2 separate regions of the Homo sapiens genome follow, and region 1 is linked to region 2. The links come from fine-mapping of genetic effects on gene expression. A gene starts in region 2. The other region holds a variant in brackets. All regions are shown on one strand. Distances are from middle to middle.

Region 1 (4,513 bases), 29 kb after region 2:
TCCCAGGTGTGAGGAGGGCGCCTTGGTGCGTTTGCTTTTTTGGGAGCCCTACATTTCTCTCATCTGCGATTCTACAGTTCTAGAATTGTCGCAGTCCTGCCGTTCATCCTGTGTCCCTCCAGTGCACATTTTATTAGTAATTCTTGTTTATACTCTTGCTGCTTAAATTCTAGTGTGCCGAGAAAGTTTTTCTGATTTCATCGAAAGAAGAAAGGCACACAGTTCTACCATATGACAGATTTTTAACAGATATTCTAAAAAAAATTAACTTTCCACTGTTTTAAATGTACTAGTTGTCATTGTTTCATATAATTCGTAAAGGATTTCTGAAGCCCTTGCGTTGGTTTTAACTTTGCTACGGTAGACATGGATCTCCCAGAGCCGGCCTGCTGTGGAGGGACTTCCTGGGTATCAGGGTCCCCACGGCTGGCGGGCTCAGGACATCGGGGGGGGGGGGTGTTTGGGACCCCTGCTGCAGGCATGGCCTTGGTTGTGTTTCAGGAGGCTGAGGCAGGCAAGAACGCGGGGACTTGTAAACGTGTTCCCGGCAAGTGCCGTGGTCAGACGCTGGAGCCTCATCCTCCTAGAGGACAGGGATGTGGTTGTTGGAGGGGTAGCCGAATCCACCTGGCTGGGGTTTCCTGCTGCACAGTGTTGACCCGGATGCCAAGAAAGAGATGGATGTGGCCAAAAACATGCCCTGGCCTTGCACAGCTGAGCTGCCAGGCAGTCGGCTTATGGGAAAGGCATGGTGGCTCTTGGGAGGGCTTGAGTCGCCCACTCTGGCGGGAATGGACCCCCGGGCCCTTTCAGCTCCGTGGTTGGCATCATGAAGTTGGACTTGGCCAGGCTTGAACAGCTTGGATCCGATTTTAATGTGATTTCTTTACTTTTTTTTTTTTTTTTTTTTTCTGTCAAGACAAGGTCTTGCTCTGTTGCCCAGGCTGGAGTGCAATGGCGTGATCTCGGCTCACTGCAACCTCCACCTCCCGGGTTCAAGCAATTCTGCCTCAGCCTCCCGAGTAGCTGGGATTACAGGCGTGTGCCACGCCCGGCCTGGCTTTGGCGTGATCTCTGTCAGTGCAGGAGCGGGTTTCTGTGCTTGGCACCGACCCTGGCTCTGGGCAGTGTCGTCCTGCACTCTGGTTAGCTCAGCCTGGACGGGTCAGGTGACCTTGGGGAGCAGGTTCACGGTGCGGTGCCTTTCCCCGGGCTTGCAGTGGAAAAGGAGCACAGCCTTTAGGTGTTGAATACACCTGAGAGCCAATCAAGCGCTTACTGGGAAAGGGGAGGAGACGTGGTCGCGGGCCGGGCGCGGGTGGCTCACGCCTGTAATCCCAGCACTTTGGGAGGCCAAGGCGGGCAGATCACCTGAGGTCAGGAGTTCGAGACCAGCCTGGCCAACATGGTGAAACCCCATCTCTACTAAAAATACAAAAATGAGCCACAAAATTGTGGCAGGTGCCTGTAATCCCAGCTACTCGGGAGGCTGAGGCAGGAGAATTGCTTGAACCCAGGAAGCAGAGGTTGCAGTGAGCCAAGATTGTACCACTGCACTCCGGCCTGGGTGACAAGAAAAAAAAAAAGAAACATAGTCGCCGTTGGAAACGGCAGTTGCAGTCGAAGTTGCTCAAGTTGCTGTGTGAAGTTTCAGCTGCTGCCATTTGTCTGCTTCAAGGGAAAAGCTCCAGGGCCATCCTGGTTTCTGTGTGAGGGGCCCTGAGGTGGGCAGCGCCTCTCCTGGGCTCAAGGTGGTAGAGGGACCCACCCTGCAAAGAAGAGGGGCAGCCCCTCCACCTGTGTCCTGGTGGGTGTCAGGCTGGCTCATGTGCACCGGGTGAGGCACATGGAAACCGGGGGTTGCCATAGTGAGGGTGGAGATAGAGGCTGCTGTAGCGTCTGGCGCTGTCCCTGTGTGCCAAGGTGATCGAGAGGGCCACCCTGCTCCTTGAGGCCCCAACCACATGAGTGGTGCCAGCCCGGCTCCCCAAGGCCCAGCTGATGTCACCTAGGCAGAGCAGAGCGGGGCTGAGCGCAGGCAGGTCTCATCTCTGCTGTGATAGGGAGCGCATCCCGCTGCCCATACCCTCCTGCCAGGCTGCAGGTCCCTCCCCGGCCCGGGGCAGCCCGGCGTTGAGAGATGGAGCCCAAAGACCAGCCACTAATGGTGAGCGCCCTCCCTCGTGTTCCCGCCCCCCCAGTCTGCGAGTGCCCGACGCCGCCTCCCAAGCCTGCAACCCCGGCGACCCCTCTGCTCTGTTATCAGCCCGGTCTACTCCCCAACTTTCCCTCGCTGGGAGCTAGCTGCCCCGCTCTTCCCCACTGCCTCCGCACCCCCGCCTTGAGCCTCCAGACACCCTCTCCACCCCTAATCCCCATGCTGCTGGCACCTGGGTGTGCGGGCTCTGGGCTCCCCAGCCCCCTCCCTGGGCCCAATCCAGGCCATCTGCTGGGGGACTCAGAGCCTCCGCCAACTGGACAGCGGTGAGCTGAGCTGGGGACTTGCCCCAGGGCTGTAGCTGGGTAAAAAGAGATGCCAGTCATGACTGTCCCTCAGCCACAGCTGCTGTTTCTACCAAAAAATGTGTCCCTTTTATAGAGGGGGAAACAAGCGTCCTGGGGCCACAGTTACTAT[C/G]CAGCTGGGTGGGTTTGAGGCCGGGATCTGGCCCTCAGAATAGGGAGTGGGGATGGCAAGGCCCCCAGTTTCCCCTTGGGGAAGTTTCCCATGAAGGAGCTCAGCATCTCTTCTGGAGGTGGCAGGACTGGGAGGCAAGGCCTTGGGCAGGCGCTCCCTGCTGTGTGCCTCAACCTCCCCATCTCCTCAGTGAGGGAGGCCATGTCTTGTTGGGGGCACGGGCAGCCCCGTGGGAGTGAAGTCAGAGCCCACCCTGAGGGGCACGGGGCTGAGCTGCTGCCTTCACCTCTTCACAGAGACTGAGCAGATCCCAGAGCAGCCGCCCTGGTGACTGCCTGCAGGTGGCACTTCGAATCCACCCGCTCAATGACGCAGAACTGAAGGAGGGAGCCGCGGTCATCGCCCACAAAGTGGGGGACCAGGTGAGGCTGGGGCTCAGGGGGCTCCCTGCTGTCACAAGCTCACAGATGGGGCTCTGTCCTGGAGGTGTGGCTAAGACTGACACCATGCCCACCCCACTGGGCCCAGTTTCTAGTCAGGGTTCGGGGCACACAAAGGGAGAGATGAGTGCCACCAGGAGAATACAGCAGAGCCCGTGGGGGTGGGCAAAGTCAGGGCAGGGGAGCAGGCTGGAGCCCCCCAGCAGGAGCATGTGGCAGGGCCACAGAGCAGGGAGGGGGCTGGGAGGAGGGCAGAGCCTTCAGCAGGCCTGGCTCTGAAATTGTGTGGCTGGAAAGGGCCTGGGTGGCTGCAGCTCAGCAGGGAAGGGCGCCAGCATGCTGTCCAGCACGGGGATCTCTGCCACTTTGAAGCAGGCTCAGAAGCCAAGCTGTTGCCACAGGTTAGGGATGTCTATGGCCTCGGTGGTCACTCATAAGAAGAAATGCCCAGTGTGGGGTGGAACTCAGTGTCGCCAAGTGGATCAGGTTTTCCCGTTCGTCATTAGAGAGGCAGCTTCATAAGGAAGGAGACATGGCCCCTGGGAGTCATGTGCACTCAGGGGCAGGGGACCCTGGGTGTGTCAGAGGGAGCTCCCCGCTGGGCAGGGGGGCACCAGTCCTGGTCCCAGGTCAGGAGGCTCAGGGCATCGTCTGCAAGAAGATGAAATGGACGGCCGGGCGCGGTGGCTCACGCCTGTAATCCCAGCACTTTGGGAGGCCGAGGCGGGCGGATCACGAGGTCAGGAGATCGAGACCATCCTGGCTAACACGGTGAAACCCCGTCTCTACTAAAAATACAAAAAATTAGCCGGGCGAGGTGGCGGGCGCCTGTAGTCCCAGCTACTCGGGAGGCTGAGGCAGGAGAATGGCGTGAACCCCAGGGGGCGGAGCCTGCAGTGAGCCGAGATTGCGCCACTGCACTCCAGCCTGGGCGACAGCGAGACTCCGTCTCAAAAAAAAAAATAAAATAAAATAAAAAAAAAAAAGAAGATGAAATGGACCAGGCGCGGTGGCTCATGCCTGTAATCCCAGCACTTTGGGAGGCTGAGGTGGGTGGATCACGAGGTCAGGAGATCGAGACCATCCTGGCTAACACGGTGAAACCCCGTCTCTACTAAAAATAAAAAAGATTGGGTGGGCATGGTGGCAGGTGCCTGTAGTCTCAGCTACTCAGGAGGCTGAGGCAGGAGAATGGCATGAACCCGGGAGATGGAGCTTGCAGTGAGCCGAGATTGCGCCGCTGCACTCCAGCCTGGGTGACAGAGCGAGACTCCGTCTCAAAAAAAAAAAAAAAAAAAAGAACAACAAAAAAAAAGAAGATGAAATGGACAGAAGATCAGGTGCACAGACATCCCCAGGGGGAGTGGACTGCAGAGGGGGCAGGTGAATCAGTGCTGAGTTCACGGAAAAGCAAACGAAAAAACCAGACAGGCGTTTA
Region 2 (4,000 bases):
GACAGAGAGAGACACAGACACACCACCAGACACCACATCCACATAACTTTTATGACAATATATTGTTATAATTGTTCTATTAGTTATTGCTGTTAATCTCTTACTGTGCCCTATTGTAAGCATGCATATGTAGAAAAAACATACTCCCAGGCGTATTGGCTCACACCTGTAATCCCAGCACTTTGGGAGGCCGAGGCAGGCGGATCACAAGGTCAGGAGATCGAGACCATCCTGGCTAATACGGTGAAACCTCGTCTCTACTAAAAAAATACAAAAAAAATCAGCCAGGCGTGGTGGCGGGCACCTGTATTCCCAGCTACTTGGGAGGCTGAGGCAAGAGAATGGCGTGAACCCGGGAGGTGGAGCTTGCAGTGAGCCGAGATCGTGCCACTGCACTCCAGCCTAGGCGACAGAGCAACACTCCGTCTAAATAAAAAAAAAAAAAATTGTCATCCCTTATTGTACAGATGCGGAAACTGAGGTGGAGGCATTAAGTGACCTGCCCAAAGATACACCACTGACAGCATGATGAGGAGTAGTCAAACCTGGTACTAGGCATGGGAAGACTCTGCTTCTTTTTCGCTCTTTTAAACACCGTTAGGATGGGATGGGTGTGGTGGCTCATGCCTATAGTCCCGGCACTTTGGGAAGCTGAGGGAGGAAGACTGCTTGAGGCCAGGAGTTTGAGACCAGCCTGGGCAACACAGTGAGATGCTATCTACAAATAAAGAAATTAGCTGGGCACGGTGGCACATACCTTCAGTCCCAAGTACTTGGCAATGTACTTAATGTCACTGAACTGTACACTAAATTGCATATTAAAATGGCTAGGCCCTGCGCGGTGGTTCACGCTTGTAATCCTGGCACTTTGGGAGGCTGAGGTGGGAGGATTCTCTTGAGGCTGGAAGGTCCCGATTGCAGCGGCGCTGTGATTATGCCACCGCACTCTAGCCTGGGCAACAGAGCGAGACCCTATCTCTGAAAACAAACAAAACAAAAAAACTATAGGATGAAATATACATAAAATTTACCTTTTTGGCATTTTATTTTATTTTTTCGAAGACAGGGTCTCGCTATGTTGCCCTGACTGGTCTTGAACTCTTGGGCTCAAGTGATCCTCCTGTCTTGGCCTCCCAAAGTACTGGGAAGAGAGGTGTGAGCCACCGCGCAGGGCCTAGCCATTTTAATATGAAGTTTAGTATACAGTTCAGTGGCATCAAGTACATTCACCATGTTGTACCATCACCACCGTCATCTCCAAAACGTTCTCATCCTCCCAAATTGAAGGTCCGTCCCCGATAAACACTCCCCACTCTCCACCCCAGCCTCTGGGTACCACCTGTTTTATTTATTTATTTAATTTTCGTAGAGATGAGGGCTGGCGTGCGGGGGGTGGTGGTGCTATGTTGGCAAGGCTGGTCTCCAACTCCTAAGCTCAAGCGATCTTCCCACCTCAGCCTCCCAAAGTGCTGGGATAACAGGCGTGATCCACTGGGTTGTTTTCTAGGATGATTAAGACATCCCCCAACCAGTGGTTGTCCTCCACTCCGGCAAAAAACAAGATAGAAGCCACATGCACCCAATGCCCGTCCCGTGAGCACCCGCGCAGAGCGAACCGCTCCGGTCCCTCCGGAGTCAGCCTCGAGCTCCACGCGGCGAGGACCCGCCCCCGCCCCCACGTGACCCGCGCTGTCCCGCGCTGAAGGCGGCGGCCTCGGATGGACTGAACCACTGTGAAAGCCCGAATGGGGGGAAACAGGCAGTGACGGCCGCTAGGGAAGGACTGGGGGTAAGCGATTAAAGAAACTTCCATACATTTTTGTATCGCGCCAGGCAGTCGTCCTTCTAGTCGTGTGGGCCCTCTCTGGCTCGCCCCGAATTCCTTTTCTATTTTGAAGTAGTCTGTCCTTTTGCTCAGTCAGTAGGCGAGTCCAAGTGACAGACACGGACAGGGGGGACTTTAGTAACGTAAACTAAACGGTTTCCCTAGCGAAAGGCTCAGACGCCCTGAGCAATCGCCTGTTGAGTCTCCACTCTTCCAGGGTATTAACTGTTGAGTTAGAGGACATTTTCCTAGCATTCCGGGTACTAAAATCATTTCTTGTCCCCGCCTTCAGCTCCACAAATAGTTCAGTCCCGCCCCGCAGCGTCCGACGGGAAAGGAAAGGGGGAGGACGCCATGTTGGACGGAACCATCTGCTGCCACACATGGGGTGGTCAATGCTCCCATGAGTTTACTGATGCACAGAAACAACCTTGCTGAATGGAATTAAGCACTTTCTTGTCACAAATATATCAGTTTGATGATTTTCGGGCGCGGTCTTGTGGATGCGAGTCCTCTCAGGGTCGTTCGTGAGGCCCCAGGGCGTGGGTGCGCCCCCCGCCCCGCGGCCTTGGTGCGGCCTCCCCGTCGCACGCACATGGCTGGGCTGTAGCCGTCGCGGCGCGCGGTGCGGCCTGGGAGAGTCGGAAGCGCGGCGGCCGCGGAGCCCTGCGAGTAGGCAGCGTTGGGCCCATGCAGGACGCGGAGAACGTGGCGGTGCCCGAGGCGGCCGAGGAGCGCGCCGAGCCCGGCCAGCAGCAGCCGGCCGCCGAGCCGCCGCCAGCCGAGGGGCTGCTGCGGCCCGCGGGGCCCGGCGCTCCGGAGGCCGCGGGGACCGAGGCCTCCAGTGAGGAGGTGGGGATCGCGGAGGCCGGGCCGGAGTCCGAGGTGAGGACCGAGCCGGCGGCCGAGGCAGAGGCGGCCTCCGGCCCGTCCGAGTCGCCCTCGCCGCCGGCCGCCGAGGAGCTGCCCGGGTCGCATGCTGAGCCCCCTGTCCCGGCACAGGGCGAGGCCCCAGGAGAGCAGGCTCGGGACGAGCGCTCCGACAGCCGGGCCCAGGCGGTGTCCGAGGACGCGGGAGGAAACGAGGGCAGAGCGGCCGAGGCCGAACCCCGGGCGCTGGAGAACGGCGACGCGGACGAGCCCTCCTTCAGCGACCCCGAGGACTTCGTGGACGACGTGAGCGAGGAAGGTGAGGGCGCCCGGGGCGGGGCTGGCGAGCGGCGCGGGAGCGTGGCTGGGGTTCCCGAGGTGGGAGATATCGTCGGGCTGTGCCACCGGTTCGTGCAGAAGTTCCAGCGAGGGTGTCCGTGTGTTCCTGAGAAGCCACCGAGGGAGGGGTTCCCGAGTGCCCTGGAAGTGTTCTGAGAGCCCAGCGCCTCCCCTTTTCTTTCCTGAAAAAGGGGACAGGGTGGAGCTCACTTCGGGAGCCAGGCATTTGCATGACAACCAGAAATCTGAGAGGGTGGGAGAGGGCACATGGGGTACTCCGTTATGGCTGGGTGTGCTGTGAGTGTAGCAGCTGGGGGTACGGCAAAAACCGAAGACCCGGTGGCAGGTTTGCGGGTCTACGTGTCCCCAGAGCTGACCAGTCAGACCTCCCAAGGTCTGGATCGGAGGAACAGCTTGTGGCAGAGCCGGTGATTTTGTCCTCCTGCCCCTCAGAATTGTCCATCTCCAGAGACTTCCTTAGTGGGACAGGCACCCTGTGAAATTCCAGTTTGATTTTTCTTTATCTCTTGCGCTAAATCTATAAAGAGAGTTATTTTTCCAGGTTTTAATATTGCCGATAACAGCCAGCTTTGCCTTCATCTCAACCTTGATTGGATTTACAGGCATATTTTTGCTTCCTGTCTCAGAGATTTTTTCCTGAAGCTACTTCTGATGAGAGCTGGTCTCATTTGTTTTTCTTTTGTTTTTTAGCTCTCTTAAGCCTTTAAGTTGGGAACACATCAGCCTCTGCAGATTGGCTAAGTTGATACTAGAGTGAGAAAAATAAAAATACCCTTGCTGATGTAGCCAGCGATACACCAGGACAATTTCGGGAATAACATGGAGTTGCCAATTTATGATTTAAACGTATTTTTAAAAGGCTATCAGAGGGCCGGGCTGGGTGGCTCACGCCTGTAATCCCAGCACTTTGGGAGGCCGAGACGGGTGGATCACGAGGTCACCATC

Direction of the effects. Positions count from the first base shown, and alleles are read on the strand shown. Sizes are in standard deviations (SD) of each study's normalised expression.
As copies of C replace G in region 1, the expression in lymphoblastoid cells after a statin of the gene that starts at base 2,421 in region 2 goes up (small effect, 0.38 SD a copy in CAP).

The links. PIP is the estimated chance that this variant, and not a neighbour inherited with it, causes the effect.
Region 1: its variant is the best candidate, but not a certain one, in a credible set for the expression of EIF3B in lymphoblastoid cells after a statin (CAP, PIP 0.79).

The regions. Positions count from the first base shown.
Region 1 is chr7:2,381,616-2,386,128 of GRCh38, forward strand. It overlaps the pseudogene KIF19BP. Among named protein-coding and RNA genes, the nearest start is that of CHST12, 20 kb to the right of the region's middle. The variant C/G (reference allele first, on the strand shown) is at 2,636.
Region 2 is chr7:2,352,407-2,356,406 of GRCh38, forward strand. EIF3B (eukaryotic translation initiation factor 3 subunit B) reads left to right here and starts at 2,421. Exons shown (of 19, transcript NM_001037283.2): 1 at 2,421-3,014. The coding sequence starts at 2,516. It also overlaps a transcript of SNX8 not described here. RefSeq lists enhancers at 1,212-1,767, 1,438-1,507 and silencers at 2,308-2,447, 2,628-2,717, 2,768-2,877.